Homo sapiens: one gene and its partner. The protein of the gene in region 1 interacts with the protein of each later gene in a pairwise test. Each region holds a gene or a part of one and is shown on either strand. Other genes may lie near its edges.

The links.
Region 2: the proteins of GRAPL (region 1) and ZNF76 interact in binary tests that used the Homo sapiens proteins (3 or more experiments, as listed by UniProt).

Annotation. Positions count from the first base shown.
Region 1 is NC_000017.11:19,154,961-19,158,775, reverse strand, and holds part of GRAPL (GRB2-related adapter protein-like), read right to left. Parts: exon of another isoform or gene 458-3,815; coding exon 400-457; 3' UTR 1-399.
Region 2 is NC_000006.12:35,290,420-35,293,609, reverse strand, and holds part of ZNF76 (zinc finger protein 76), read right to left. Parts: intron 2,970-3,190; coding exon 2,894-2,969; intron 2,333-2,893; coding exon 2,207-2,332; intron 2,053-2,206; coding exon 1,873-2,052; intron 1,071-1,872; coding exon of another isoform or gene 1,057-1,070; coding exon 823-1,056; intron 730-822; coding exon 566-729; intron 1-565. UniProt on the Homo sapiens protein: May be involved in transcriptional regulation.

The DNA of each region.
Region 1 (3,815 bases):
AGGGCGGTGTCAGGACTGGAACCCCAGCCAGGCTGACTCAGACATCCCTGGGGCCTGAGCCCAGCAGGGCAGCTGTGACTCAAGTTTGCAGGAAGAGGAGGAGGAGGGTGGGGTAAATGGGTGCTTGACGGAAGCCACAACCTCTATTCCCTCAGAAATGGAAGTGCTTGGTGAGGTTTGGTGTGTCCGAGCCGAAGAGCAGCCAATGACAGGCCTGGGGATCGTCTGGCACAGCCCACTTGACAAGGCCTTGGAAACTTGGTCTCTGCAGCAGCAACCGGATTTCAGCCTGGGCCTCGGACACCTCGGCCTGGGTACGGATGCGACTTGGATGCAGTCCTTCCCTGGCAGTGGAGGGGATGCCCAGGCTGGCACAGGAGTCTCGGGTCCTCTCCGGCTCTACCCCAATCTGCTGTGTGATTTTGGGCCCAGGCAGGGACCCCTCTGGGCTCTGTTACTGGAGAAAAGGCAAATGGCTGGTACGGGTGGGTCCCCAGCCCTCCTTGCCTGGAGGTCTGCGAGTTGGAGGGCTCTGGGGTAAAGCCAGAGCCAGGCCCGGGGAGAGCCTAGGCTCATCTCTGGTGAACAGGGTACCCTCTAGCCAAAGCAGGGGCAAGGCGAGGCACATGCCCCTCATATGGGAGCTGGGGCTGACCCCCTCTCCTAGCCCTGCACACCTTGAGCACGTGGCCTTGGCCCATCTGCCCTGTGGGTGGACACTTTCCAGCCCTGGGTCCTGAACTCTACCAATCAGCAGGAACCTAGACTCCTGAGGGGTGCAGCCTGGATGGGAGGTCAGGGAACTGGGTTCCTGAGCGCATCTCTGTGCCATTCATCTCTCCATTGGTTTCCCAAATGTGGACTGAGCACACACTGTGAGTCAGGCCTGAGCTAGGTTCTAGGGATGCTACTGTCAACAAGACAGATGAAGGTTCCTGCCCTCATGGAGGGGAGGGAGACAATAAGCAAAGAAATAAATGCATGATGTAATGTCAGCCAGGGAGCGATGCTGCAAAGCAGGGTGGGCGTGGGGAGTGACGCAGGCCGGGGTTGGGGAGGCATCGTTGTAGTGGTCGGGAAGACTGCTCCGAGAGGCAGACTGAGGGAAGGAGGATGGACATCTAGATGTCTGAGGGAAGGGCCATTTGGGCAGAGGAAAGAGCACAGGGCTCAGTGTGTGTGGGGGGGAGGTTGGAGGGGGCTCCGTGTGTAAGGGTGCGAATGGGGAAGGGAGGCAGGCTGCGAGTGGACAGGGCTATATGTAGACTTCATTCTAACTGTGACGCAAAGGCCTTGCAGGGTTTGGGAGGGGGACATGATCTCATTTGGTCTTCCCAATAACTCCCTGCCAGAAAGAGACAGAGCCCCAAATTGCAGTGAGGAAGCTGAGGCTTAGAGGACATCCCTGCACATGTCTGGGGTGTCATATCATCATCGGAGGAGCTGGGACTCAAACCCAGCTCTGGAACCTGCTCTGTCCCCAGCTCCATGATAACATTGTGTGAGGTGCTGGGTGCAGCTCCCAACTCCTCCCTGCTCAACCATGCTCTGTTAGCCTGTGGTCTACAGAGTGGCTTCCTCCAGGGATGTCTTGATGTCTTGCCTTTTTTTTTTTTTTTTTTTTGAGACAGGGTGTTGCTCCATTGCCCAGGCTGAAGTGCAGTGGTGGGATGATAACTCACTGCAGCCTCAACTTCCTGGGCTTAACAGATCCTCCCACCTCAGCCTCTCAAGTAGCTGAGATTACAGGTGCACACCAATACGCCTGGCTAATTAAAAAACAACAAACAAACAAACAAACAAACAAAAATATGTTTTTTTTGTAGAGATGGGGTCTCACTGGGTTGCCCAGGCTGGTCTGAAACTCTTGCCCTCAAGTGATCCTCCCGTCTCAGACTCTCCAAGTGCTAGGATTGAGCCACCACGCCCATCTGGGATGCCTTGTCTTTTATACCTTTACTCCACAAATATGTGCTTAGGCATTGCTTGCTGTGGCCAGAACCTTGCAGGGGTGAGAGACACAGGTAAATGAGAGCTGGTCCCAGCCCTCCCTCAGAAAGCTGCTGGACCACAGGGTGACAAAACTGAAGCTGTCTGTCACATCCGGGAGCAGGTGCTATGAGGATAAGCAGCCAGAGAAGACCCCTAACTTGATCTGTGGCCATCAAAGAAGGCACCCAAGGCAGGATGCCTCCCTGAATCCTAAAGCCAATTAGCAGTCAGCCAGGACAGCTGCTAGAGGGGGTCTAAGGGGGAGTGGAGAGGATGTTCCAGGCAGAGGGAACAGCAGACAGGAAGGCTCAGAGGTGAGTGTGAGCAGGCAGTCTCAGGGACCCCAGACAGTTGGTGAGGCTGCAGTGCTCAGGGGAGGTGTGCCAACAGGTAAGCTGGCAGGGCCGGGTCCCTGGGGGCTGGCTTGTCCTTTCTGCCATTGTCTGAGAGAGTGGGTGGCTGGTATCTGGTGGCCCAGATGAAGATAATGGAGATGCAATTGTGTTCTTCTTTCTGCTCAGTGCCTCTCAGTTAAGGACATTTGCAAAAATTAATAACAGCATATGCTTTTATGTCCTCCACTTAAATTTCCTTTGGATTAAAGAAAGTAACGGAGGGAAAGGAAGAAAAGCAGGAAGGAGCGAGAGAGGGAGGGGAGAAAGAGACAAAAGAAGGAAAATAATTTGGGGAAAAAAAATTTGTCCTTTTCTGGGCTAAGATAGCCCCAGCCTTTGCATTTTCTCACCCACTGAGTCACCAGCCTCCTGCCCTCTTTCAGGACTGTACATCTTGGCCTCTTACCTACTGTGTCCGCGTCAGCCTCCCTCACAGCCTGATGGCCCCTGCGGCAGCCCCAACCCGGTTTCAGGGGCTAAGAAAACTACAGTTGCATGAACGGGTGGAGGTGAGTGGGAGGCAGAAGCGGCGGGGAGAACCAGTCTGTTCCGAGATCTCTGGACCAACCAGTGGATCCTGATGGTCAGCCTTGTCTAGAGCCCCTTCCAGCGTGCAGGCCAGTCCTCCTGGCATTCTTCTAATTACACCGAGCTGTGAGTTATGTGTGCCAAGTATGTGCTGGATTTTGTACCAAGTGCTTTCCATTCATCAGTTCAGGGTAGTGATGCAGGTAGCTCCAGGCTCAGAGAGGAACAGTGACTTCTCCCAGGTCACACAGCTGGAAAGTGGCTGAGTCTGGATTCAAACCCAGACTTCCTTGTTGCTAGGACCTGTATTTTCAACCACTGCCTATGCCTCTATAACGAGCCAGCTTATGGCTGTGTTCACGCAAAGAGAAAAGCATCCAAATGGGAAGGCTGGAGAATTCAAGCAATTTTCCCGCGTGTCAGACAGTCCTGTTTCCCTCTCCCTTCAAAAAAAGTCCTGGATTATCTCTCTCTCTCTCTCTCTCTTTCTTTTTCCTTTTCCTTTTTGTTTTTTTTCTTTGTTTGTTCTTTCTTTCTTTCTTTTTTTTTTTTTTTGAAACAGGGTATTACTCTGTTACTCAGGCTGGAGTGCAGTGGTGTGATCACAGCCCACTGCAGCCTTGATGTACCTGTGTCCCTGGCCTCAGGTGATCCTCCCACCTCAGCCTCCCAAGTAGCTGTGACTATCCCGAGAAGCTGAGACTACAGGTGTGCGCATGCCATCACGCCTCACTAATTATTTTACTTTTTGTAAAGACAGGTTTTTTTCGCCATGTTACTCAGACTGGTCTTGAACTCCTGGGCTTGAGTGATCCATCGGCTCCCAAAGTGTTGGGATTACAGGCATGAGCCACTGCACCTGGCCTGACATCTCAGTCTTGATTTGCACTTTTTGCCCAA
Region 2 (3,190 bases), on another chromosome or scaffold:
AACAAAATGGGTCCAAGGTTGCAAAGAGAGGCCACACTAGAAGAATTCCACTGACTACTTCTATTTATCACCACTTTGCCTCTGGGCCCTGTTGTATCCAGCTCAGGGTCGCCACCTGATTGTGTCCTAACAACTCTAGAAAGCACAGATGTACTTTCTAGCAAGGGTACGGACAAGGGTCAGGTTATATAGCTAGCTAGTACACTAGTAGGACCAGACCCCAGGCTTTCAGACCCCATACCATGTTCTGGCTGCTATATGAACATGCCTCTCTTGAGAAGGACATCCCATATCCTGTTCAGATGAACAGGACCTGTCAGCCTCCAAGTAAAGAGAGAAACTACTAACTGTGCTCTAGAAGCCCCAGAGACTGAGCTGGAAGCACAGGAGGAGGAGAGGCTGTGCTGCAAGATGTGGTCTCCTCAGCCTCAGCCTCTGAAGTCTATAAAACTTAAACAAGAAGCTGGGTGGCAGTGGGGCTGTCAGAACTTCAGGGCTCCCAGAGTCCCCAGAGAGAGTGGAGAGTGCCAGCTAGTATGGCACCTCTGCCCTCCAGGGCCTGTACCTGCTGGGCACCATCCTGAGTGATCAGAGCCACCTGGGGGGCCCCATCTTCTTCAGTCACCATCGCCACCTGGGCTGGGATGTCATCTCTCTCTTCCTTCACCTCCGAAAGGTAAGCTATCCGGGGTCGTTTGGGTGGCGGACTCTCCTCGGCTGCAGAGGCGGCTGGGAGAGGAGAGCCAAGGCTGACATCTGCTACCAGATGCCATGGGGAGGCCTGGCTTGTCCCCACTCTCACCCTCTGCCCACTCCCCTTACCCTCAAGTTGCTGCTGCTCATAGAGGGCCTGCTCGCTCTCCTCCGTGGCCTCCAGCTCGCCGTGGGCACTGCGCTTGTGCATGGCCAAGGTGGAGGTCTGCCGGTAGGTCTTGCCGCAGGTGCTGCAGGTGTAGGGCTTGCAGTGTGTGTGCACCACGTGGTGCTTATACAAGCTCGAGTACTCGGTGAAGCGTTTCCCGCAGCCTGGCACCGTGCAAACGTATGGCTTCTCCCCTGGGGACACTGGGCTGTGAGGGGGGTGGGAACTGGGGCTGGCAAGGGGGAAACTAAGGGGACAGGGGTGAGGGACAGGGTTGGTGAAGGGAGAGCCAGAGGGAGGGAGAGGGACTGAGACCTGAGACTCTGAATGGACAGGGTTGGGGAAGATGGCCAGTGGAACACAGAGAGGACACAGGTGTTGAACCACTGAATCCAGAGACAAGGCGGAAAGGAAACGGGGGACAGGGCAAGGCTGGGGCTAGTGAAGGGGCTGGTAGGGGGCACTGGGGCTTATAAGGTTGAGGGTGGGAGGTTGAGAATGGTGAACAGCAGAGGCAAGAGGCAAGGATGACTGAAGTATCAGTTGTGATGGGAAAGAGGGGACACACATGCTGAGACACAACACAGAAAGCTGGATGAGGGGCATAACACTGGGGAGGGTGAGGATACACAGGAGTCATGGACGGCGGATAAGGTGAGGAGTTGAAGGTGACAGTTCACTCTGCTTCTTCCCCATCATTCCTGACCCTGGCCTCTTTTCAAGAGTTCAGTCAGAGTTGGAGAACTCAGGGTGGGTGTAGAGGGGTGGTAGGGAGCTGAGGGACCCCAGAGAGGACTGGCAATACCTTTCAGATTGGACCTAACTGGAAATTGAGGAATTACTCACTGCAAGCAGAGTTGTTCTGGGGATACCCTACCCCCAGACCAGCCTGGAATGGCTGGCACAGAAGGGTTCTGGGCTGGGAGTTGGGAATGTGTCTTAGATGGGAAGCCTACAGTAGAGGGGTTGGGGCCTGAGTGAGGGTAGTCCTCGCATGCCAGCTAGCCCACCTGTGTGGATGCGCACGTGATTCTTATAGTTGGTGGCGCTGGTGAAGCCGCGGCCACAGTGGGGCTCCGGGCAGGTGTAGGGCCTCTCGCCTGTGTGGGTGCGCACATGTACCTTGCGGATGTTAGATGTGGTGAAGGAGCGGCCACAGCCCTCAAAAGGGCACTGGAACGGGCGTTCACCTATGCAAATGGTGGGATGTGAGGAGGGGTGTGGGAAAGAGGGCCATGCTGGAGCAAGCTGGGGATGGCACTGGGCTCCAGGTCTAAGTCTGAAAGGCAAGCTGAATTCCTTTTGCCCAGGGAATGGGGTTGGAGTGGGCAGGGCCCAGCATACCAGTGTGGGTACGGACATGCTTCTGCAGGTCTCCTGAGGTCTTGAAGGCCTTGCTGCACAGCTCCTCTGGGCACTTGTATGGTTTCTCACCAGTGTGGGTACGAACGTGGCTCTTCAGTCCATAGCCTGTCCATATGTGGCAGGCAGGGGGTGAGATGAGCACCCAGTGGGGTCTCATCCTCCACCGTCCACCTCATGCACAGGCTCTCCACCTCCTTTGGCTCAAGAAGCCCATGTCTGCCTCTATCCCACCCCTGCCCTGGGCAGGGGCTGGAAAAGCCCACTCTGCCCTGCTTCCCTCTCCAGGAGCAGTTGGAGCCATACCAGAACATGAGCATGAAAAGAAACTTAGAGAACTCATGGCTAAAGGTACTAGTTTCACAGAGGGGAAAATAAGCCCAGAGAGATGCAATGGCCCACCCAATAATCCACAGCTGGTTGGCATCAGAGCTGACACAAGAGGCTGGGTCTCTCCACCAACCCTCCAGGCTCCTTCTGCTGGCCTGAACCATGCTGCCTTGCACTCCCGTAACAAGGTTTCCTCCAGAGAGAGCACCCTGCAAGTCAGAGTACTCTGACGGTAGTTTCTCCAGGAAAGCAGCCTGGTGTTGGGTTCCCTTCAGAGAGGTCCCAAACAGAACGAGAACCCTCCACCCTCAACTGGAAGCAGCCCACCAGGCAGGTTACCTGTGGCAAAGGCCTTTCCACAGCTGGGGAAGTCACATCTGTATGGACGGTCACCTGTATGAGCTCGTTCATGCACCTGTGAGGACAAGCAATCACATAATTCAGAGGAGCAAGGGTATGACCAGGGCTCTTTGGTTTTCTTTAGGACCCTGATTCTCTTCCCTCCTGTACCATTCATGTGTGTCAAGCGCTCTGTGCTGGCATTCCTGTGTACCCTCATTTCTTCCCTCCAGCAACGTGAGGGCAGGGACCAATTCCAATCAAAGCAGAAAGGTAGAATTACAGCCTGGGAGGGAA